Regions from separate parts of the Homo sapiens genome. Here region 2 is linked to region 1. The links come from fine-mapping of genetic effects on gene expression. A gene starts in region 1. The other region holds a variant in brackets. All regions are shown on one strand. Distances are from middle to middle. Region 1 holds the start of ISG15 (ISG15 ubiquitin like modifier). Region 2 holds the start of TTLL10-AS1 (TTLL10 antisense RNA 1).

Region 1 (12,112 bases):
CCTCCCAAAGTGCTGGGATTACAGGTGTGAGCCACCGCGCCCGGCGTTTTGTTTCATTTTTATTTTTGAGACACGGTCTTGCTCTGTCGCCCAGGCTGGAGTGCAGTGTCGCAATCTCGGCTCACTGCATCCTCCGCCTCCCGGGTTCAAGCCATTCTCGTGCCTCAGCCTCCCGAGTAGCTGGGACTGCAGGCGCCCACCACCACGCCCGGCTATTTTTTTTTTTAGAGGTGGGGTCTCACTATGTTGCCCAGGCTGGTCTCAAACTCCCAGGCTCAAGCGATCCTCTAGGCTTTGCTTCCAAAGTGCTGAAATTACAGATGTGAGCCACCATCTGACAATCTTGGTCATTTAGTCCACATGAATTTTGGGCTTTTGGCCTGGAGAACTACGAGAGAATACATTTCTGTGGTGTGAAGTTTAACACCCAGTTTGTGGTACATTGTTCAGCAACCCCAGGAAACTAAAGCAAGTGACTGCAGGTCTGGTCACCTTCCTCGGTGCCTGTGCCTGGGGTTGGTTCTGTCGAAGCAGGAAGACAACTGGCAGAGATGGGATGAAGTAACCAAAAGGAAAGGAAGATTCTAGCACCGTACGTCAGCATTAAGAAATCAGGAAACGGGCCGGGCGCGGTGGCTCACGCCTGTAATCTCAGCACTTTGGGAGGATGAGGTGGGCGGATCACGAGGTCAGGAGATCGAGACCATCCTGGGTAACACGGTGAAACCCCGTCTCTACTAAAAATACAAAAAATTAGCCAAGCGTGGTGGTGGGCGCCTGTAGTCCCAGCTGCTCGGGAGGCTGAGGCAGGAGAATTGCTTGAGCCCTGGAGGCGGAGCTTGCAGTGAGCTGAGATGGCACCACTGCACTCCAGCCTGGGCGACAGCAAGACTCCGTCTCAAAAAAAAAAAAAAGAAAAGAAATCAGGAAACATATACCATGTTTAACAGGGCATCTAAAATGATAAAAATAAATAGAAAATCCTGGGTTTTTTGTTTGTTTTGCTTGGGTTTGGTTTGGTTTTGAGACAGGGTCTCGCTCTGTCACCCAGGCTGGAGTGCAGTGGTGCGATCACAGCTCACTGCAGCCTCCACCTCCCGGGTTCAAGCTATCCTCCCACCTCAGCCTCCAAAGTAGCCAGGACTACAGGTGTGCGCCACCACGCCCGGCCAATTTTTTTATGTATTGCAGGGACAGGGTTTCACCATGTTGCCCAGGCTGGTCTCAAACTCCTGGGCTCAAGCCATCTGCCTGCCTCGGCCTCCCAAAGTCCTGGGACTGTGGTGTTTGTTTGTTTGAGACAGGGTCTTGTTCTCGTCGCCCAGGCTGGAGGGCAGTGGCGCGATCTCAGCTCACTGCAACCTCCACCTCCAGGGCTCAAGCAATTCTCCTGCCTCAGCCTCTCGAGTAGCTGGGACTACAGGTGTGAGCCACCACACCCAGCTAATTTTTGCATTTTTAGTAGAGATGGGGTTTCACCATGTTGGCTAGGCTGGTCTTGAACTCCTGACCTCAAGTGATTTGCCCGCCTCGTCCTCCCAAAGCGCTGGGATCACAGGCGTGAGCCGCCACCCCGCCTCCTCTTTGGTTTTCAGATGCTGACAATTTTGGTGACCCCTGAGATTTGCTGGGAGACGGGGAAGGGCCAGGATTCATATTCAGAATATGTTGATTTTTCACTCTTACACTTGTTTATTTAAAAATTATTTATTTATTTATTTGAATCTTATTTAAATATTTTATTTATTTGTTTATTACTGAGTCTTAGCTATCCTTCTCTTGTTATGTGCTGTGTGTAACAACAACAATTTGGGAACAGCCTAAGTATTCAGTGATGTGGGATGGGTTTTAACTAAATTAACTCTGTACTGTAACAGGCTCATTCTTCCATGGGAAACATGCAGTTGTTAAAACAACCTGCACAGATGCGTCCACCAACACGGATAGATGCGTGTTTTTGTTTTTTGGGTTTTTTTTTTTTTTTTTTGAGACAGGGTCTCGCTCTCTCACCCAGGCTGGAGTGCAGTGAAGCGATCTCGGCTCACTGCAGCCTCCGCCTCCCAGGCTCAAGTGATTCTCCTGCCTCAGCCTCCCAAGTATCTGGGATTACAGGTGCCCACCACCACGCCCAGCTAATTTTTGTATTTTTAGTAGAGATGGGGTTTCACCATGTTGGCCAGGCTGGTCTCAAACTGCTGACCTCAGGTGATCTACCCGCCTCGGTCTCTCAAAGTGCTGGGATTACAGGTGAGCCACTGCGCCCGGCCCATGCCCAGCTAATTTTTCGCATTTTTAGTAGGGACGGAGTTTCACCATATTGGCCAGGCTGGTCTTGAACTCCTGACCTCAGGTGATCTGCCTGCCTCGGCCTCCCAAAGTGCTGGGATTACAGGCGTGAGCCCCTGTACCTGGCCTTTTTTGTTGTTGTTGTATTTTTAGTAGAGATGGGGTTTCGCCATGTAGGTCAGGCTGGTCTCGAACTCCTGATCTCAAATGATCCTCCCGCCTCAGCCTCCCGAAATGCCGGCATTACAGGCATGAGCCGCCTGGCCTGGATAGATGTTTATGATACACTGTTGCATGAATGAAGCAGGTTACAAAACAGTGAAAGTATGGTGAGGCCTTTTCACCTTTGCTTTTTATTGATGTGAAATTCATATAACATAAAACTAACCATTTTAAAGAATGAAATCCAGTGGCGTTTAGTTATTTACCACGTTGTCCAACCATCACCTCTGTGGAGTTCTGAAACATTGTCACCCCCAAAGGGGCTTGTGGCTCTGAAGCAATCACCCCCCACTCCCCCTCCCTGGCCCCCGGTAACGGGGTCGGCTTCCTGTGCTGCGGCTCTACCAGTTCCGGTCGTTTCCCCTGCGGTGAATGGAACCAACACTCTGCGGCCTTCGTGTCTGGCTCTTTCCACTTAGCATAACGTTTTCAAGGTTCTTTCACATGAATCAGTGCCTCAGTCCTTTTCATGGCTGCATAATATTCCGTTGTGTGGACATTCCACACTTTGTGTGTCCATCCATCACTGATGGACATGTGCTCCGTTCCTGCTACTTGTTTATTGTAAACTGTGCTGCCATGGACATTTGTATGCAAGTATTTGAACACCTATTTTCAATTCTTTTGGACACATGCCTAGAAGTGGAACTGCTGGGTTCCCAATAATTCTGTTGAACGTTTTGAGCATCGCGGCGGCCGCACTGTTTTACATTCTCAACAGCAATGCATGTACCAGGATTCCAGTTCCTCTATGTATTCCCCAGTGCTTGTTACTGCCTTTATGTTTATTTTATATTATTTTTTGAGACTGTCTTGCTCTGCTGCCCAGGCTGGAGTGCATTGGTGCAATCTTGGCTCACCACAATCTCTGCCTCCTGGGTTCAAGGGATTCTCCCGCCTCAGCCTCCCAAGTAGCTGGGATTACAGGCGTGCACCACCACGCCCAGCTAATTTTTGTATTTTTAGTAGAGATGGGGTTTCTACTAAAAATGTTGGCCAGGCTGGTCTCAAACTCCTGACCTTAGGTGATCCGCCCGCCTCAGCCTCCCAAAGTGTTGGGATTGCAGGCGTGAGCCACCGCACCCGGCCTGGCCTTTATTTTTATTATTACAGTCATACCAGCAGGAAATAGCATCTCACTGGGGTTTTGATTTGCATTTCCCCAATTAATAATGATGTTGAACATCACTTTACAGCCGTTTCTATGTCATTGGAGAAATGTCTATTGAAGTCTTTTGGCCATTTGAAAATTGAGTTGCCTTTTTTTTTTATTTTTATTTTTTATTGAGTTGTAAGAGTTCTCTATATGTCCTGGATGCTATGCCCTCATCAGATAGATAATTTGCAAATATTTCTTCCCATTCTATGGATTGTCTTTTCACTTTCTCAATAGTGTCCCAGAGTTCATTTTTGTAGAAAATAAAAGATAGGTCTCTTTTATTAAAAAACAATCTGAGGCTCCGGGTGCAGTGGCTCACGCCTGTAATCCCAGCAGTTTCAGAGGCCGAGGCAGGTGGATCACTTGAGCCCAGGAGTTCGAGATCAGCCTGGGCGACATGGCGAGACCCCCATCTCTACTAAAAATACAAAAAATTAGCCGGGCCTGGTGGTGCACCCCTGTGGTCCCAGCTACGTGGGAGGCTGAGGTGAGAGGATCGCTTTAGCCTGGCAGGCGGAGGTTGCAATGAGATGAGATCGTGCCTCTGCACTCCAGCCTGGGCGACAGAGTGAGAGACCCTGTCTCAAAAACACAAAAACAACAACAAAAAAACACCAATCTGAGCAAATACTGCCCTAAACCGAGTGTTGTTATCTCTGGGTAGTTTGGAGTTCTTGTTTCTCAATTAACCATGGGGATGTTTTCCAAGTTTACTAATTTTGCAAGTTGGTAAATGGAAAATGAAACCATTAGTCCATGTGATGACAGCTTTAGTGCATCCTGTGAAGGATCTGGAATGCGCGATATTTAGGTGTTTCCAGGGTGTTGGGTGGGGGTGGGGATGCCGTCCGCTGTCCGGAGTCCCCGCCACTTTTGCTTTTCCCTGTCTTTCGGTCATTCGGTTTTGTTTCTTCCGCTCACTCTGGGGCATGCCTCGGGAAAGGGAAACCGAAACTGAAGCCAAATTTGGCCACCAGCGCAGGCTCGGCGGCACGCCCCCTGACGTGTGTGCCTCAGGCTTATAATAGGGCCGGTGCTGCCTGCCGAAGCCGGCGGCTGAGAGGCAGCGAACTCATCTTTGCCAGTACAGGAGCTTGTGCCGTGGCCCACAGCCCACAGCCCACAGCCATGGTAAGGCAGATGTCACAGGTGGGGGGAGGTGGGCTCTGTGCCAGCCAATTTTCGTCTCCCTCCCCCAGCCAAGGTCTCCCAGGGGTGCAGGGAGAGCGGAGCTGCTCAGAGCTTGGCCAGGTTCTAAGTGTGCTCCTGAAAGCAGGTCACCCCTGAGATCCTCAGGGTGGGGCACAGAGGGGCACCCTAGCAGGTAAAGGGAGGCCACGGGATGGCGGTGGGCAGCTGGCCTTCTAGTAACGAGCCCTCAGTGCCTTCTGTGCCTGGGGTCCCTGCCGGCGGGATGTAGAGGACAGACAGGAGGGAGCACTGTCCCTGGGTACAGGAGCTCGCCCTGCAGCCAGTGCCTTGTGTGTGGTGGGCCTGGGGCTGGCGCCGCAGTCTCTGAACCTGTGTGACGCCTGCAGGGCTGGGACCTGACGGTGAAGATGCTGGCGGGCAACGAATTCCAGGTGTCCCTGAGCAGCTCCATGTCGGTGTCAGAGCTGAAGGCGCAGATCACCCAGAAGATCGGCGTGCACGCCTTCCAGCAGCGTCTGGCTGTCCACCCGAGCGGTGTGGCGCTGCAGGACAGGGTCCCCCTTGCCAGCCAGGGCCTGGGCCCCGGCAGCACGGTCCTGCTGGTGGTGGACAAATGCGACGAACCTCTGAGCATCCTGGTGAGGAATAACAAGGGCCGCAGCAGCACCTACGAGGTACGGCTGACGCAGACCGTGGCCCACCTGAAGCAGCAAGTGAGCGGGCTGGAGGGTGTGCAGGACGACCTGTTCTGGCTGACCTTCGAGGGGAAGCCCCTGGAGGACCAGCTCCCGCTGGGGGAGTACGGCCTCAAGCCCCTGAGCACCGTGTTCATGAATCTGCGCCTGCGGGGAGGCGGCACAGAGCCTGGCGGGCGGAGCTAAGGGCCTCCACCAGCATCCGAGCAGGATCAAGGGCCGGAAATAAAGGCTGTTGTAAAGAGAAATGGCCGCCTCTGTGTCTGTGCTTGCCCCTCCTCCAGCGTCCGCCTCAGACCCCTGGTGATGGGGCGGGAGAAGTCAGGAGGGAGAACCCAGGGTCCATCCTGGTGACCAGGCCTGGGCTGCCAAGTGAAGGGATAAGGGTTTGCAGTTACAGCTTCGAGGGATCAAAATAGGGAGCCCCCCACCCCGAAACTGAAGTAAGACAGCTCTCCCCACCCTTTGGGAAATTAACTTCTAGGAAAAGAAAAAGAGACACAGTTGCTGGAGCCCATCCTGCCTGTCCTCCATCTGGGACAGCAGACGGCTTAGGCAGGGACCCGCCTGATCAGATCAAAAGGGGAGGCTCCCAGTGGGCCCCTGGGAGCAGTAAGGGGTGAGTCCTTGGGGCCTGCCCGGTGGGCTGTGAGGCAGGCTCTCCATAGGAACTGGGGGCTGGGGACCTCAGCCGTCCCTAGCCCAGCCTACACAGCCTGCTCCACCTGCCTGGGCTGGGCTAGGGAGGGGTAGAGACAGGTCCTGAGCACTCACATCACCACTGGGGCCAGCTGCAGAAGACAGCCTGGGTGGCTAAGTACACCCCCTCAAGGCTGTGCGTGAAGGAGGGGCCGTGGCCAGCAGTGGAGGGCACCTGGAGTTGGGGCTGACACCGTCCAGGAAGCAGAGCTTGTCCCAGGTGGGGGGCCCCCAATTCAGTACAAGCTACAAGCTACACCCCTTCCCCCACCCATGCACCCTTCTCTGTCTCTCCTATTCCAATTTGCTAAATGAGTCTCCTAGAAGCCAGCTGTTGGCCGGGAAGCAGGGAGGACGGGGCACGGATGTCGGCTGGGATGCAGCGAGGACGGGGCACAGAGGGACATGCAGAGTCCGGACTCTGGGCACTTGGGCCTCAGCTTTCAGAGCCCTCGGGAGGATCCGGCTGGAGACACAGAGTCCCCCCTGGTCTGTGGGGGTCCATATCCAGGTGGGGAGACCCCCATCTGGCTGCACCAGGACCACTGTGTGTGCCCGCATGTGCCCAGCAGGGGGTGTCCTGGCTCCAGCCTTGTGTCCGGGTCCCCACCTCACCCCTGTGTCACAATGGGCGAGTGAAGCACTTAGCCAGGGGCCTTTCCTGAACCCCCAACGGGGGCAGGGCAGGGCAGGGCCTCCTTTGTGGCTTCTGGCTCAGAGATCTGTAGCTAGCCTGGGGTGAGAGGGGCACCACAGGCCCAGTCCTTTTTATTATTATTTTTTTTGACACGGAGTCTCGCTTTGTCGCCCAGGCTGGAGTGCAGTGGCGCGATCTCTGCTCACTGCAAGCTCCACCTCCCGGGTTCACGCCATTCTCCTGCCTCAGCCTCCCGAGTAGCTGGGACTACAGGCGCCCGCCACCACGCCCGGCTAATTTTTTTTTGTATTTTCAGTAGAGGCGGGGTTTCACCGTGTTAGCCAGGATGGTCTCGATCTCCTGACCTCGTGATCCGCCCATCTCGGCCTCCCAAAGTGCTGGGATTACAGGCGTGAGCCACCGCACCCGTGCTTTTTTTTTTTTTTTTGAGATAGAGTCTCACTCTGTCGCTCAGGCTGGAGTGCAGTGGCGCCATCTCGGTTCACTGCAACCTCCACCTCCCGGGTTCAAGCAATTCTCCTGCCTCAGCCTCCCAAGTAGTTGGGATTAATGGTGCCCGCCACCTCACCCAGCTAACTTTTTTTTGTGTTTTTAGTAGAGACAGCGTTTCACTGTATTGGCCAGGCTAGTCTCGAATTCCTGACCTCATGATCCGCCCGCTTCAGCCTTCCAAAGTGCTAGGGTTACAAGTGTGAGCCCCCGCACCCGGCCTAATTTTTGTATTTTTAGTAGAGATGGGGTTTCATCATGTTGGCCAGGCTGGTCTTGAACTCCTGGCCTCAAGTGGTCCGCCTGCCTCGGGCTCCCAAAATGCTGGGATTACAGGTGTGAACCACTGGGCCTGACTGACCCAGTCCTTTTTTTAAAAAAATTACTTACTTTTCCCAGGGTCATACTCTCAGCTAGGCTGGAGTGCAGTGGCACAATCACCGCTCACCGCAGCCTCCACCTCCCACACTCAAGTGATCCTCCCGCCTCAGCCTCCCGAGGAGCTGGGATTACAGGTGCGTGTCACCACACCTGGCTAATTTTGTATTTGTTTTGTTTTGTGTTTCTTTGAGATGGAGTTTCGCTCTGTCGCCCAGGCTGGAGTGCAGTGGTGTGATCTCGGCTCACTGCAAGCTCCACCTCCTGAGTTCAAGCGATTCTCCTGCCTCAGCCTCCTGACTGGCTGGGATTACAGGTGCGTGTCACCCGGCTAATTTTTTAGTAGAGGCAGTTTCACCATGTTGGTCAGGCTGGTCCCGAACTCCTGACCTTGTGATCCACTCCCCCCTTGGCTGCCCAAAGTGCTGGGATCACAAGCGTGAGTTACCGTGCCCTGTCTGTATTTATAGTAGAGACAGAGTTTCACCATGTTGGCCAGGCTGGTCTCGAACTACTGACCTCAAGTGATCCGCCCACCTCGGCCTCCCAAAGTGCTGGGATTACAGGCCTGAGCCACCACGCCCGGCCCGTCGACTAATTTTTTTTTTTTGAAACAGTCTCGCTCTGTCACCCAGGCTGGAGTGCAGTTGCACTGTGTCCAGAATTGGTGGGTTCTTGGTCTCACTGACTTCAAGAATGAAGCCACGGACCCTCGCGGTGAGTGTTACAGCTCTTAAGTCGGCGCGTCTTCAGTTCGTTCCTTCTGATGTTCGGATATGTTCGGAGTTTCTTCCTTCTGGTGGGTTCGTGGTCTCGCTGGCTCAGGAGTGAAGCTGCAGACCTTGGCGGCGAGTGTTACAGCTCTTAAGGCAGCGCGTCTGGATTTTTTGTTCCTCCCGGTGGGCTCGTGGTCTCGCTGGTTTCAGGAGTGAAGCTGCAGACCTTGGCGGTGAGTGTTACAGCTCATAAAAGCAGTGTGAACCCAAAAAGTGAGCAGTAGCAAGATTTATTGCAAAGAGCGAAAGAACAAAGCCTCCACTGTGTGGAAGGGGACCTGACCGGGTTGCCACTGCTAGCACCGGCAGCCTGCTTTTATTCTCTTATCTGGCCCCACCCACATCCTGCTGATGGGTAGAGCCTAGTGGTCTGTTTTGACAGGGCGCTGATTGGTGCATTTACAATCCCTGAGCTAGACACAAAGGTTCTCCACGTCCCCACCAGATTAGTTAGATACAGAGTATCCACACAAAGGTTCTCCAAGGCCCCACCAGAGTAGCTAGATACAGAGTCCACTGGCACATTCACAAACCCTGAGCTAGACACAGGGCGCTGATTGGTGTATTTACAAACCTTGAGCTAGATACAGAGTGCCGATTGGTGTATTTACAATCCCTGAGCTAGACATAAATGTTCTCCAAGGTCTCACCAGAGTAGCTAGATACAGAGTGTCCACTGGCGCATTCACAAACCCTGAGCTAGACACAGGGTGCTGATTGGTGTATTTACAAACCTTGAGCTAGATACAGAGTGCCGATTGGTGTATTTACAATCCCTGAGCTAGACATAAAGGTTCTCCAAGGCCCCACCAGAGTAGCTAGATACAGAGTGTCTGTCTATTGGTGCATTCACAGACTCTGAGCTAGACACAGGGTGCTGATTGGTGTATTTACAATCCCTGAGCTAGACATAAAGGTTCTCCACGTCTCCACCACTCAGGAGCCCAGCTGGCTTCACCCAGTGGATCCCGCACTGGGGCTGCAAGTGGAGCTGCCTGCCAGTCCTGCGCTGTGCACCCGCACTCCTCAGCCCTTGGGTGGTCATGGGACTAGGCACGGTGGAGCAGGGGGCAGCGCTCATCGGGGAGGCTTGGGCCGCACAGGAGCCCACGGAGGGGGTGGGAGGCTCAGGCATGGTGGGCTGCAGGTCCCCAGCTCTGCCCCGCCGGAAGGCAGCTAAGGCCTGGCGAGTAATCGAGTGCAGCGCCAGTGGGCTGGCACTGCTGGGGGACCCACTACACCCTCCGCAGCCGCTGGCCCGGGTGCTAAGCCCCTCATTGCTCCGGGCCGGCAGGGCCGGCCGGCTGCTCCAAGTGCGGGGCCCACCAAGCCCACGCCCACTCGGAACTCCAGCTGGCCCGCAAGAGCCGCGCGCAGCCCCGGTTCCCGCTCATGCCTCTCCCTCCACACCTCCCTGCAAGCTGAGGGAGCCGGCTCCCGCCTTGGCCAGCCCAGAAAGGGGCTCCCACAGTGCAGCGGTGGGCTGAAGGGCTCCTCAAGTGCCACCAAAGTGGGAGCCCAGGCAGAGGAGGCGTGAAGACCGAGAGAGGGCTGTGAGGACTGCCAGCACGCTGTCACCTCTCAGCACCATCTCAGCTCACTGCAACCTCCGCCTCCTGGGTTCAAGCGATTCTCCTGCCTCAGCCTCCCAAGTAGCTAGGACTACAGGCGCCTGCCACCACACCGGCCAATTTTTGTATTTTTAGTAGAGACGGGGTTTCACCATGTTGGCCAGGCTGGTCTCGAACTCCTGACCTCCCGTGATCCACCTGCCTCAGCCTCCCAAAGTGCTGGGATTACAGGCGTGAGCCACTGCGCCCGGCCCATCCAGCTAATTTTTAATTTTTTTGAGAGATGGGGTCTTGCTATTTTGCCCAGGCTAGTCTCGAACACCCGGTGTCAAGAGATCTTGCTGCCTCCGCCTCCCAGAGTGCTGGGATGACAGGCGTGAGTCACCACGCCCAGCCTAGACACAGTTCTGAAGGGACAAAGGGGGCCTCCGCTCCCTCCTTTCAATCTTCAGCTAGGCCAGGCTCCCACTTGGGTCCTCCAGCCCTCAGTTTCCCCCTGCACCCAGCCAGGCCAAGCTGCAGAGGCGCCCGGCCCAGAGCTGGGAAGGGGCGTGGCGGGACCCGCGCTTGCAGCCGCGGGACGGAAGGGGGCGCGAACCTCCCCGCGGCGGGGCCTGGGGGGGCGGGGCCGGGAGGGGCGGGGCCGCGCCCCGTGCTGGCCAATCAGCGCCCGCCCCGGCACCGGGACCCGCCTCCGCGCCGCAGCTCCCGGGGGGTCCGGCCCGGCCGAGCCTCGGTGTCCGGCCCCGCGGGGGAGGGGCGCGGCCTGCGGAGCGGGATCGGGGCCGGGTCTGGGGCCCCTCCCGGCGGCCTTCGAGCCCTGCCGCCCGGCTCCGCGCCGCCCGGAGCCCCTCGGCAGTCCCGTCACGTCTCCTCCAGATTAGGCATTAACTCGGGTGCAGCCGCACTTCCGGGGGGCCGCGGCGGGGGAGGGGCGCCTGCGGGATCCAGACCCGCCCCCCACTCTCCTCTCCCCGCCCCCTCCCGGGCCGCCCCTTTCCCGCCCCACGGCCGCGCCGGGCGCTGCGTCCCGGGGCTTTGTTCGCGGCGGCGCGGGTCGCCGGCCTCCGGGCGGGCCGGGGGAGGGAGGAGGGAGGGGGCGGGAGGGGGAAGGAAGGAGGAGGGGGAGGAGGAGGGCGCGGGGAGGGGGTAGGGGGGCGGGGAGGAGAGAGGGGGAGGGGCGCCGCCCTGGCCCCGCCCCCCCCCGCCCGCCCGCCCGCGCTCCGCCGCCTCCGGAGCTGCGTCCCGTCCTGTCCAGTCCCGTCCCCGGCGCGGCCCGCGCGCTCCTCCGCCGCCTCTCGCCTGCGCCATGGCCGGCCGGTCCCACCCGGGCCCGCTGCGGCCGCTGCTGCCGCTCCTTGTGGTGGCCGCGTGCGTCCTGCCCGGAGCCGGCGGGACATGCCCGGAGCGCGCGCTGGAGCGGCGCGAGGAGGAGGCGAACGTGGTGCTCACCGGGACGGTGGAGGAGATCCTCAACGTGGACCCGGTGCAGCACACGTACTCCTGCAAGGTGCGCCCACCCGGACCCCGGCCTCCCCTCGCGACGCCTGCCGCCCCGCCGGGACCCCCGCCCCAGGCCGTGGGAACCAGCCCCGGTCGCTCCGCAGCCCCCGCTCCGGCTCCCTTGGCGACCGCCAAGCCCCGGGAGGGGGGGTCGCCGGGTCCCGGGAAACTCGCGGGCGCCGGGGAAAGTTGCTGCGCCGCCGCCGTCCTCCGCCCGCCGCCGCCTCCCTCCTCGCGGAGACAAGTGCACCTCGCCCACGGACTGCGGCTGCCGCGCGCCCTCCCTACCGGCCGAGAAGGAGAGGGGCCTGGGGAGGGGGGGCCTTTGCCCGGGCGGGGAGCGGGGGCTGGGCCTGGGATCCGCTTGTTCCCCTCCCCAGAGGCCTTTCCCGGGGCGAGAGGGGTTGGTCAGGAGAGAAAAAGGGGCGCACAGCCTGAGCTCCCAACCCCGGGAGCCAGGTGGGGGGTGCCGCAGTGGTGCGGGGGGGGGGCGTGCAGGAGCAGAGAGGTGGGCGGGGCCGTCA
Region 2 (12,112 bases), 170 kb after region 1:
ATAACAGCTCACAACTTATTTAGTTATTTGTGAACATCATAAGGACATAAAGTTAGAAAAGCCCAAAGGAGGCCTCAGGCTTACGATGAAATCAGCACCTGGCTGCCTCTTCCAGCTGCTGCTTCTTCTGCAGCAGAAGAGACGGAGGCAGTTTCCTGGGTGGGGGGGTGGGTGCTGTGCTTCCGCTTTCTAACTGCCTGTTTCCAAAAAGCACCTGATGCTGCTGCTTCTGGAGCTTCCAGTGCAGAAATTCCCCGTGGACGGTGAAAGGGGCTTGTCTTCCACACGCTGCCCTGTCCATATCATCCCGGCACGAATGATGTTTGGGGCAGAGCTGCCCGGCCTCCCCGGGTGGTGCCCATTTGTTTTCCTCAGAGTTGGCGATCGCCTTGCTTTTCACATGTGCTTGTGTTCCCGCCTATCCTGAGCTGTCCCTGAGCTCTCTGCCTCCCGTCACCCCCACAGTCACCATCACCACAGCCCTGCAGACTGCGCAGTGTGTGGCGGGTGCTGTCCTGACATTACATGTGGAAACTCCATCTTTGCAGCAACCCTGCGAGGCTGCTGCTCCCAGCTGCTGTGCAGGTGGAGAGAGGCTGCTGTTGTGCAGGTGGAGAGGCTGCTGCTCCCAGCCGCTGTGCAGGTGGAGAGAGGCTGCCACCGTGCAGGTGGAGAGAGGCTGCCGCTGTGCCGGTGGAGAGGCTGCTGCCGTGCAGGTGGAGAGAGGCTGCCGCTGTGCCGGTGGAGAGGCTGCTGCTCCCAGCCGCTGTGCAGGTGGAGAGAGGCTGACGCTGTGCAGGTGGAAAGAGGCTGACGCTGTGCAGGTGGAGAGGCTGCTGCTCCCAGCCACTGTGCAGGTGGAGAGAGGCTGACGCTGTGCAGGTGGAGAGGCTGACGCTGTGCAGGTGGAGAGAGGCTGCCGCTGTGCAGGTGGAGAGACTGCTGCTCCCAGCCGCTGTGCAGGTGGAGAGAGGCTGACGCTGTGCAGGTGGAGAGAGGCTGACGCTGTGCAGGTGGAGAGAGGCTGCCGCTGTGCCGGTGGAGAGGCTGCTGCTCCCAGCCGCTGTGCAGGTGGAGAGAGGCTGACGCTGTGCAGGTGGAGAGAGGCTGACGCTGTGCAGGTGGAGAGGCTGCTGCTCCCAGCCGCTGTGCAGGTGGAGAGAGGCTGACACTGTGCAGGTGGAGAGAGGCTGACGCTGTGCAGCTGGAGAGAGGCTGACGCTGTACAGCTGGAGAGGCTGGGGCACACAGTCATCAGGTCAGCTGCAAGCTCACAGCTGCTGCATCTTTTCCCTGACAGCTCACTCCTGTGAGAGTCTTCCAGGCTTCCCGGAGGGACGGATGTCTCCTCACCTTTTCCCACCTCCACACCTTTTCCCACCTCCACACCTGGTAGGCCAGGTATGGAATTCCTGGAATTCCCGGCTGGGAGCCTCCTGGGCCGGTTCCAGCCCTGTGTGTCCCCAGGAAGGCTGGAGGGCTGCTAGTGGCCTCGGTGGGCACCCAGGGCTGGCCAGGACCACACCTCCTTCCTCCGGCTCTGTGCCTGTATCTCCCCGGGCCTCCCCTCTCGCCTGGGGCTCCACGGTGACCCTGCTGTGCGGCACCTCGGATTTACACCCACAGTCCCATCCCCAGGGTTCCCTTCTGGGCAGTTTCCTTGACTTAAATCCCAACCCCGGTGTTGCATTTTTAATTCCCACCGGCTCTTTTGTATTCTCTGTGCCTTTGCTTTAAAAGCACGCGGCTCTCTGAGGGGTCCTGTCTCCATCACCCCAGCCTTTTCCAGGCTGGTTTGTTTCCCTGTTTCTCCCCTTTTCTCTTCCTCTGTGTGCGTCTGTGTGTCTGTGTGTCTACATGTCTGCGTGTCTGTGTGTGTCAGCGTCTGTGTGTGTGGGTGTCTGTGTGTGTGTGTGGGTGTCTGTGTGTGTGTCTGTGTGTACGTGTGTGTGTAGACGTGTCTGTGTGTAGGTGTCTGTAGGTGTGTCTGTGCATGTTTATAGGTGTGTGTGTGCATGTCTGTAGGTGTGTCTGTGCATCCATGTGTCTGTGTGTGTAGGTGTGTCTGTGCATCTGTGCAAGTGTCGACATGTCTGTGTGTGTCTGTGTGTAGCTGTGTGTCTGTGCGTGTGTGTGTGTAAATGTGTCTGTGTGTCATTCTTTTTTTTTTTGAGACGGAGTCTCGCTCTGTCGCCCAGGCTGGAGTGCAGTGGCACGATCTCAGCTCACTGCAAGCTCCACCTCCCAGGTTCAAGCTATTCTCCTGCCTCAGCCCCTCAAGGAGCTGGGACTACAGGCGCCCAACACCATGCCCGGCTAATTTTTTGCATTTTTAGTAGAGACAAGGTTTCATCATATTAGCCAGGATGGTCTCAATCTCCTGACCTCATGATCTGCCCGCCTCAGCCTCCCACAGTGCTGGGATTACAGGCGTGAGCCTCCGCGCCCGGCTGTCCTTGTGTCACTCTTCTTCACACTTGGGAGTCCCTCTGATGATGCCTGTTGGGCCTGGGCAGCCCCTTTGGCTGAGAGTCAGTACTTTAGAGGATCCCCTTCCCCAGCAGGAATCCTGGGTGCTGAGGGCCCATGAGAAGGAGCTGAGGTCTCCCATTTAATGCAGAGTCTTGCACGCACACACCTGCTCCGTGCCTGCGCAGGGTCCAGCCTCTTCCAAAAGTCCTCCTGTTCTGGGTGGGGAGGGGTCTCAGGGCTCCTGACTTCTTCCATTCTTGCCCAGCCCACCCTAGGAAGAGGGCGTGAGGCTCTCCCAGACACAGGTGGGGGGCCCAGCCTGTGTTCCGCTCCTCCCTGAGGACGGGTCCCAGTGGCCCCACCCGACTGGGTCATCGTGCAGACGGCTGCCTCAGTTTCCCCACCTTCCCCTGCCCGTGGGCTTCCTCGTTGTCTCCTTCCCTCCTGTCACTCAGGCGGGGCAGGGAGGGGCAGACACAAAGGCTTCCTGCGGGTGAGATTGGTGCCGAGCTCTGTGCCCAGCCTGGAGCCTCAGGCCTACCCCAGCCTTCTCCAGCCTCAGAGCCCCCACAGCCTCTGCCCAACACTGCCGTGTGCTCCCCTGTCTCCTGGGCGAGTTCCTTCAAACCCTTGAAAGCCCTCACCTAAGCCGGGCACAGTGGCTCACACCTGTTATCCCAGCACTTTCAGAGGCCGAGGCAGGCGGATCACCTGAGGTCGGGAGTTTGAGACCAGCCTGACCAACATGGAGAAAACCCATCTCTACTAAAAATACAAAAAGTTAGCTGGGCATGGTGGTGGGTGCCTGTAGTCCCAGCTACCTGGGAGGCTGAGGCAGGAGAATCGCTTGAACCTGGGAGGCAGAGGTTGCAGTGAGCCTAGATCGCCCCATTGCACTCCAGCCTGGGCCACAAGAATGAAGCTCCGTCTCAAAAAAAAAAAAAAAGTTCTCACCTCCCAAGCAGCCCCAAGATGGGTTTGTTTGCTGGAGACAGAGGTAGAAAGATCTGTCGAGGAACTGGCTGAAAATTCCTAAGTTGCAACATGGGAAGGTGTTGCTGGAGACAGTGTCCTGGGGGTCGGGCCTGGCACCCAGGGGCGGCCGCAGAGGAACCCTGATGGCAGGTACCAGGCGGCTGCACACAGCCCACAGCTGGGCTCCGGGGTCAGCAGCGGAGACAGAGAAGACCCCTGCTCAGGCCAAGGAGCCCTCCCACCCTCCATTCTTCAGGCAGGCGCCCCACCCAGCAGGCCTGACGCTGCCCCTCCTTCCAGCCGGCACCCAGGCCGAGCTCAGCCACACCTGAAGAGCCGCTCCGGCCAGGGAGGACATGCCCGGCAGAGACAGGGTGCAGAGACAGCCTCGCCCCCACACGGCGCCAGGCCCCACAGCTGCCACAGAGACGGGAGCCAGCCGCACGCAGAGGCTCAAGCCCACGGCCCTGGGAGGCGCCCTTTCCTGGGCAGGGTGGGCCTGACTGCCTGCTCCATCCAAGCACTGGGGCCTCGGGCCGCGCGGAGGTCCCACAGGAGGGTCAGAGCGGCATCTTCCCTTCAGGGCCCTCGCCCGGGCACCCCCCGGCCAATGGACCACAGCTGCACCCGGTTCATCCACCGCCGGGGACCACCCACTCGGACCCGAGCCGGCTTCAAGAGGGGCAAGAGGCCAAGGATCCAGCAGAGGCCTCGGGCTCGAGTCTCAGGTGAATAGAGCAGCCCTGGGTGGCCTCCTACCTCTCCAAGGCCAAGGCCTCCCTGGGACGGGTGCCCCATACCCAAGGAAGTCAGTCGGCCTCATGGGGCAGGGGCAGGATCCACACATGGCCATGCCCCGCTGCTCCGAGAGAGGGGCCAGCTGTGGGCGCCGGGCTCTGCAGGCACAGAGGGGAGCTGTCGCGCTCCGCGGCCCAGGGTTCCGCCTGGCTGGCACCACCCCTGGAAGGGCAGCCCCTCGTCTCCCGGCCTGACAATGGCCCCTTGGGTCACCCATGACATCATCATGGACATTGTGACCCCTGCCCTCCAGGGACCATCCCTGCGTCACGTCTGCACCCAGCACCGGCCTCACAGCCCGGCCCCTGCCCTGCACCAGGCCACTGCCCTGTTGGTGAGGAGGGTCGGAGGGGCGACCTCCCTGCCCCCTGCTCCAAGCTCCCCACCCCCACCTGGAACCTGCCGGCAGGAAGCCTGGCCCTGGAGGGTGGTCACGGCCCCTCCCCAGATGTAAGCAGTCCCCAGGCCGCCTGGTGGGGCCAGAGCTCGGGCTGAACTTGAGCCCCAGACGGGCCAGGGGGATTGTCCAGGGTATTGGAGAAATGGGCTGGGAGCAAACTGGCTGAGCCATGTCCGGGCTGAGTGGGCAGCTCCCGTAGCCACCCCGGTGGGACCCCACCCCGTTCACAGGCCCGGCCCACGAGAGGCCAATGGGGAGCAGCCAGGAGGAGGGACTCCGGTGTCAGCCAAGCCAGCCAGACCACGACGCAGATGGACACTGTGGGCCGGACCTGGAGGGGGCAGAAAGAGCCTCTGCCACACCCGGACCCCCTGGGCTCCTGAACAGCCACCGGCCTGCAGACTCGGATGACACTAACGCCGCCGGGCCCTCAGCTGCCCTCCTGGAGGGGCTCCTGCTGGGGGGTGGGAAGCCATCGCCCCACAGCACCCGGCCGGGGCCCTTCTTCTACATTGGAGGCAGCAACGGGGCCACAATGTGAGTAGCGGCCCTGGGCGCCCGTGGTCCCACTGAATACCCACCGCCTGCTCCCGGGGCCCAGCCCGGCCTCCGCTGGCCGCCCGCCATCCCCAACCCCTTGCCTCGGCCCCCAGGTCACCCCCGCCCCCACCCCTCGCAGCATCAGCTCCTACTGCAAAAGCAAGGGCTGGCAGCGCATCCATGACAGCCGCCGGGACGACTACACGCTGAAGTGGTGTGAGGTCAAGAGCCGAGACAGCTACGGCAGCTTCCGGGAAGGTAGCGGGAGCCGGCACCAGAGGCGGGCAGCCTGCAGGGGCCTCCTGGGCCGGAGCACAGGGCAGGTTGGAGGGGTGGGGACCGAGGTCCTGCGCTCCCTCCACACGAGCCCTGGCCTCTGACCTCCAGGAGAGCAGCTGCTGTACCAGCTTCCCAACAACAAGCTCCTCACCACCAAGATCGGGCTGCTCAGCACCCTTCGGGGACGGGCACGGGCCATGAGCAAGGCCAGCAAGGTGCCGGGGGGGGTCCAGGCCAGGTGAGTCTGCCCCTGCCCCTGCCCCCGTCCCTGCGCCCGCCCCTACGCCTGCCCCTGCCCCTGCCCCTGCACCCGCCCCACCCCTGCCCCTGCGCCCGCCCCTGCCCTTGCCCCTGCCCCTGGCCACCCAGGCTCCCAGGCTGGCTCCAGCCCCTGCCCCTGCCCTTGCCCCTGCCCCTGGCCACCTGGGCTCCCAGGCTGGCCCCAGCCCCCACCCGTCAGCACCTGCCTCCACCTTCCACCTGTCCTTTAAAGGGCCAAACCCCTGTCCCATAAACCCACCCTCTTCCTCGTGGCTGAACGGGGAAGATCCCACACGTCCCCAACCCACTGGGCCTGACACCCACCCACCTGTCCATCTCACAGACCCACCCAGGTACAACCCACCTGTCAATCTGCCTTCACCCCAAACATCCATCCAATCCATCCACAATCCCACACCGTGCCCACCGTCACCTGTGGGTGCCCTGAGTGAGGCCGTCCATCGCTCACCCAAGTCTGGGCCATCCATCCTAGCGACTTCGTCCTCCTGCTCCCAGCCCTGCCCACTGCCCTTCTATGGACC[C/T]ACCTATCCCTCCTCACTTCATTTGGCCCAGACATTTTTGCACCAAGCACCCGCCCAGCCAACCGCAGCTGCCTCCATCTGCACCCCCCGCCCCTGGTTGCCTGTGACACCAGCTTTACACCATGTCCAGCGTCCACTTCCAGCCTAGAGCAACACAGCTGTTTCCCCCAGGCACCGCCGTCCACCCAGCCACCTCCTTCCACCACAACTCACAGTCCGCCCACTCACCACCCATGCCCCATCCCCCAGTCCCCACCCGCTCCAAGCACCATGAGCTGGCCCCTCAGTCCAGGCCCTCTGTCCCCTGGGCTGCAGGCTGGAAAAGGACGCAGCAGCGCCCGCCCTGGAGGACCTCCCGTGGACAAGCCCAGGATACCTCAGGCCACAGAGGTAGACTCAGCCCAGCTGTGAGGGGCCCTTCAGACCGAAGTTCAGACCTAAACCTGGTGTCGTCTGAAAAGGAGAAAGCGGGGCGGGGGTCCCACACAAAGGAAAACCACGAGCTAGAGTCAGAGGTTCAGCCAGGCCAGGCCGAGATCCACGCTGACCCCCCAGTGCACACAGAGCTGGGGCAGGGCCAGGGGCTCAGGCCACGCTCTCCGCCCATCCCAGCCGTGAGGACACTGCCATGAGGTGGTGGCTCACAAATGGCTGAGACGGTGCCAGCCGGGAGAGCAACCATGAGGGAAAAAGCAGCCAGCGGGAGGGGCCCGGGTGGGGGTCAGCGGCCAGAAGGATGCAGCCAGCAGCACAGCCCGTTGGGGGGGTGCTGCAAAGGGGCAGGAAACGCAAAGTCCCCACAAGGAGAACGGCCGCGGGCGCCAGGTGCCACTGCCCACACTCCCTCCCGCCGGGCCACAGGCTGGGCCTCAAACCGCCCACCCAGCCAGGGGCGAAGGGACAGCAGCTCATCCTCCTGCCTCCCTGCCCTGCAGGGTCCTGAGAATGGAAGAGTTTTTCCCAGAGACCTACCGCCTGGACCTCAAACACGAGAGAGAGGCCTTTTTCACCTTGTTTGATGGTGAGACGCTGCTGGCCGGACACCAGGCTGGCCCTGGGGAGACAGGGTGAGGGCTGGACCAAGGCGGGGGCTGATGAGGGCAGGGCTGGGTCTGGAGGGGCTGCGTGGGGCTGGGACGAGACGAGGTGGTCAGGAAGGGGCCAGGGCTGGGCCTGGTCTGGGTGGGGACTGAGGAGTTGGAAAGGGGAGGGTCTGGCCTTCGTGGAGGTTGGGGTATGAGGGCACTGGGGCCAGGGCTGGAGCTTGGTCCGGGTGAGCGTGGTCGAGGCACGGGCAGGAGCTGGGGCCAGGCGTGTGGTTAGCGCAGGGCCAAGGTTGGAATGGCCGGGCCGAGGGTCGCAGCCTGGAGGGGAGGGTCCTGGTCGGGCCCTAGGAGGGGCGTGGCTGGGTTGGGGGCGAGGCCAGGGGCTCAGGCCGCGCTCTCTGCAGAAACCCAGATATGGATCTGCAAGCCCACAGCCTCCAACCAGGGCAAAGGCATCTTCCTGCTCCGGAACCAGGAGGAAGTTGCCGCCCTGCAGGCCAAGACCCGGAGCATGGAGGACGACCCCATCCACCACAAGACGCCGTTCCGGGGGCCTCAGGCGCGGGTGGTGCAGAGGTGCGGCGGCGGGTGCCCGGAGGGGTGAGGGTCTGGGCTGGCTGACCCGGGCCCCACTGGTGCAGTCAGCAGGGCCGCCGAGGAGCCCTTGGTCGTGGAAAGCAGCCGCACCACCAGCCCCTGTGCAGACCACAGCCGGGCCCCCGTGTAGCCAGCAGAGGGGAGGGGTCACACCAGGCCGGGGTCACAGACACAGGATCCAGGGTTGAGGGGTTAGTCAGTTTGTCCTTCAGCTGGGGCCCCCTCTGTCCTGCAGGTGGCCTGGCCTGGGTGGCCTCCCGGCTGCCAGCCCCCCTACTCCCCGGCCCAGCCAGCCAGCTGCAGCCTTCAGGCCTATGGCCAAGCTGACCACTCCTTCCCTGAGTGGGAAGGCTTCCTCCAGAAAGCCCCGTGGCTGCACGAGGCTGAAGGTTTAGACCTGTCGACCTCACCCCCGGCCCTCGTAGAGCCTCACTCTGACCACAGCTGCCGTCTGCCGTCCCCAGCTTCCATCGGCTCCTCCCTCGCGTCCCTCCACCTGGCGAGCTCTCCGCCTGGCGCACCCCCTCTGCCTGCTGTGCTCCCTCTGCCTAGCGCCCGCCTGGCGCGCTCCTTCCCTTCCTCTCCAAAGCCACCTTCATGCCCTCCTCCTCCAGGCAGCCCTCCAGGCTCCTACTGCGGTTATGCCCTGGAGCACCCATCAGGGTGCCAGGCCTTTCCTCCCAATTCCCCTGACATATTCAGGCCCAGAAATGCCCCCTTTCCCTGGAGGTCACACCTGGGACAGAGGCGGGGCGCTGAGGAAATGGAACAGGCCCGGGGTGGGGTGTGAGGGGATGCAGGCCAGGCTGGCCCCGTGGCTCAGCCCAGCAGCCCCGACATGGTGCCCCCAGGTACATCCAGAACCCGCTGCTGGTGGACGGGAGAAAGTTTGACGTGCGCTCCTACCTGCTCATTGCCTGCACCACACCCTACATGATCTTCTTTGGCCACGGCTATGCTCGCCTCACCCTTAGCCTTTACGACCCCCATTCCAGCGACCTCGGCGGCCACTTGACCAACCAGGTGAGTCTGCCATGGGTGAGGGCCCTCCCTGCAGCCTTGGGATGAGATTAGAAGGAGGTTCTCACTGCTAGGGGGTGCAGAGGGGGTGCAGCTACAGAAGGAGGTGGCCCAGGCCGGGAGGTGTCTCAGGCCTGGAAGTAGCCTGGGCTGCCCCCGCTGGCAGTGAGCACTGCCTCTCACCTCCCGCTTTTGGCCACGTCAGAAGAAGGGCGTGGCAGGGACCCCGTTAGCTGGTGAAAGGGCTCAGAGCCCTGTAGCCCTCAGCGTGCAGCCTGGCTCCCAAGCCGCAGCTGAGTTTTCTGAGGATGGGGTGCGGGTGGGCGTCGGAACCGAGGGGATTCTGAGGCTGTCAGAGGAGGGGCCCTGTGGGCAGAGATTTCTGGGGACGGGTCTTCATGGGAGAGTCCAGGGTAGGGACCTTCTGAGAAGATCTGTGGGGTCCTCACGGCTGAAGGGGGGTCTCAGCGGATGAAGGTTTTTGTGGGAGGGTCTTTGCAGGCAGGTCAGGGTGGGGCCGGGGGAGCAAGGTTAGGGGCGGCTGTCTCAGGGACCCCCAGAGAACAGGCCTTCTAGGTTAGGGGGATGTTCTCTTGGGGACCCCCGTGAGGACAGGCCCTCCGGACAGTCTGGGAGCCAGTCTCCAGGCACCGTGTGCCCCCAGTTCATGCAGAAGCCTTCTAGGTTAGGGGGATGTTCTCTTGGGGACCCCCGTGAGGACAGGCCCTCCGGACAGTCTGGGAGCCAGTCTCCAGGCACCGTGTGCCCCCAGTTCATGCAGAAGCCTTCTAGGTTAGGGGGATGTTCTCTTGGGGACCCCCGTGAGGACAGGCCCTCCGGACAGTCTGGGAGCCAGTCTCCAGGCACCGTGTGCCCCCAGTTCATGCAGAAGAAGAGCCCTCTGTACATGCTGCTGAAGGAGCACACGGTGTGGAGCATGGAACACCTCAACCGCTACATCAGTGACACGTTCTGGAAGGCCCGGGGCCTCGCCAAGGACTGGGTCTTCACCACCCTCAAGGTGCGTCCACTGTGCCCTCCAGTCTGGGAGTGAGATCCCTCGGGGCGGGGGTGTGTGGTCAGGCTGGGCACCAGGCACACAGATGTCCGTGGCGTGCGTGGGCGGCTGCGCTGAAGTGTGACCTGACCGTGTGGAACCAAACCCTTCCAGCGTCTCTGCTCACTTAGCTGGCAGTGCCTGTCCCCAGCAGCCAGCAAAGGCCCGGACGGAAAGCCCAGTCGGGGGTCTGTCGGCACGAGTCCCGCGGGCAGCCTCGCCGTAGGGTCAGGGGACAGCTCGGCTTCAGTGACAGCCACCATGTGAAGAGTCTTTGTTCCTTTCAGATCCTCCACTTGGCAGGCAGGGCCAACAGCAGCCCCCGGGCCAGGTGTCCTGGAGCAGCAGCAGCTGCCCGTGCAGGCCCGGACTCTCCCTAGCTAAGGGCCATGTGCGGTGGAGTGTCCTAATTTTGCAGGGTTCCTTTCTGTGGGGGTACCTGTGGGGTACTTCAAACAGCCCTAGCAGCAAAGGCCCTTGAGCAGCGCGGTGTGAAACTGGGATAAAAACGGGGCTTGGCCGAAGGACTTTTATCTGTCTTGGTCACCCCGGCCAGGCCCCGGAAGCAGCAGCCAGGGATGGTCCTTCCTCACCCACAGGCGTGTGTCACTGTGGCTGGGACGGCAGCGCTCAGAGGAGCCTCCAGTTACTTTCCTCACATCTCCCAAACTCTCTCTTAATTGCGATAATTCACAGAACATAAAATTCACGATCTTAAAGTGTGCAGTTCAGTGGCTTTTAGTATTTCAAAAGTTGTGCAATTATCACCACCAATTCCAGAACATTTCATCACCTCAAAAAAGAAACACTACTAACGAGCCATCACAGCTACATTGCCGGCCATTCCTGGTCACCGCTGATGGACCTTCTCTCTCTCTCCTGTCTCCTTTCTCTTACCGTGGTGTTTTCAGGGTTCATCCACGTAGTTCACGTATCCTTTTCTTTTCTTTTTTTTTTTTTTGAGACAGAGTCTCACTCTGTTGCCCAGGCTGGAGTACAGTGGCACAATCTCAGCTCACTGCAACCTCCACCTCCTGGGTTCAAGCAATTCTCCTGCCTCAGCCTCCCAAGTAGCTGCAACTACAAGTGCCCGCCACCACGCGCGGCTAATTTTTGTATTTTTAGTAGAGATGGGGTTTTGCCGTGTTGGCCAGGCTGGTCTCAAACTCCTGACCTCAGGTGACCCGCCCGCCTCAGCCTCCCAAAGTGCTGGGATTACAGGCGTGAGCCACTGCACCCAGCCATGTATCCCTTTCATACAACGTTCCGTCATATGGATGGACCATATTTTGCCATCAGCTGGTGGACACAGTTTTATTATTGAGCTGTTATGAATAATGTTGCTATAAATATTCACACAAAAATGTTTGTATGAATATATATTTTCAGTGCTCCTGGGAAAATACCCAGGAATGGAGTCGTGGGTCACAGGGTGACACACTTAACTTTCTGAGGAACCAGGAATCACTTTTCCAGTTTCTCCAGATCTCGCCAACACTTGTTATTTTCCTTTCTTTATTAAAGAATCACCATCTGGTCGGTGTGCAGGGATATCTCATTGTGGGTTTGATTTCCATTTTGCTAATGACAAATAACTTCATGTGTTCACTGGCCAGCTATGTATATTCTTTAGAGAAATGTCTATTCAAACGCTGTGGCTGTTCTTTACCATCCAGTTGTGAAAGTTTTTTTTGTTTGTTTTTTGTTTTTTTTTTTTTGAGACAGAGGCTCGCTCTGTCGTCCAGGCTGGAGTGCAGTGATGTGATTCTCGGCTCACTGCAAGCTCCGCCTCCCGGGTTCACGCCATTCTCCTGCCTCAGCCTCCCGAGTAGCTGGGACTACAGGCGCCCGCCACCACGCCCGGCTAATTCTTTGTATTTTTAGTAGAGACAGGGTTTCACCGTGTTAGCCAGGATGGTCTCGATCTCCTGACCTCGTGATCTGCCCGCCTCGGCCTCCCAAAGTGCTGGGATTATAGGTGTGAGCCACCGCGCCCGGCCAAAAGTTCTTTACATATTCTAAACACTAGGCCTTTATCAGACATATGATTTGCCAATATTTTTCTGGAATATTGTGGCTGTCTTTTCACTTTCTTGATAATGTCCTTTGACCACAAAAGCTTTTA

Evidence for each region.
Region 2: its variant is fine-mapped to the expression of ISG15 in fibroblasts (GTEx, PIP above 0.99).

What each region holds. Positions count from the first base shown.
Region 1 is chr1:1,008,779-1,020,890 of GRCh38, forward strand. It overlaps ISG15 (ISG15 ubiquitin like modifier), which reads left to right and starts at 4,719. Exons shown (of 2, transcript NM_005101.4): 1 at 4,719-4,798; 2 at 5,206-5,762. The coding sequence starts at 4,796. The coding sequence ends at 5,700. AGRN (agrin) reads left to right here and starts at 11,342. Exons shown (of 36, transcript NM_198576.4): 1 at 11,342-11,595. The coding sequence starts at 11,395. RefSeq lists enhancers at 4,382-4,801, 4,689-5,580, 5,202-5,611, 5,581-6,472, 5,772-5,831 and 1 more and silencers at 6,758-6,978, 10,656-11,105.
Region 2 is chr1:1,175,159-1,187,270 of GRCh38, forward strand. TTLL10 (tubulin tyrosine ligase like 10) reads left to right here. Exons shown (of 16, transcript NM_001130045.2): 4 at 4,031-4,175; 5 at 4,499-4,579; 6 at 4,876-5,182; 7 at 5,325-5,443; 8 at 5,573-5,702; 9 at 6,583-6,657; 10 at 7,203-7,288; 11 at 7,718-7,889; 12 at 8,762-8,933; 13 at 9,811-9,951. The coding sequence starts at 4,058. TTLL10-AS1 (TTLL10 antisense RNA 1) reads right to left here and starts at 4,397. Exons shown (of 2, transcript NR_173246.1): 1 at 4,207-4,397; 2 at 1-1,238. RefSeq lists enhancers at 439-957, 4,013-4,512. The variant C/T (reference allele first, on the strand shown) is at 6,268.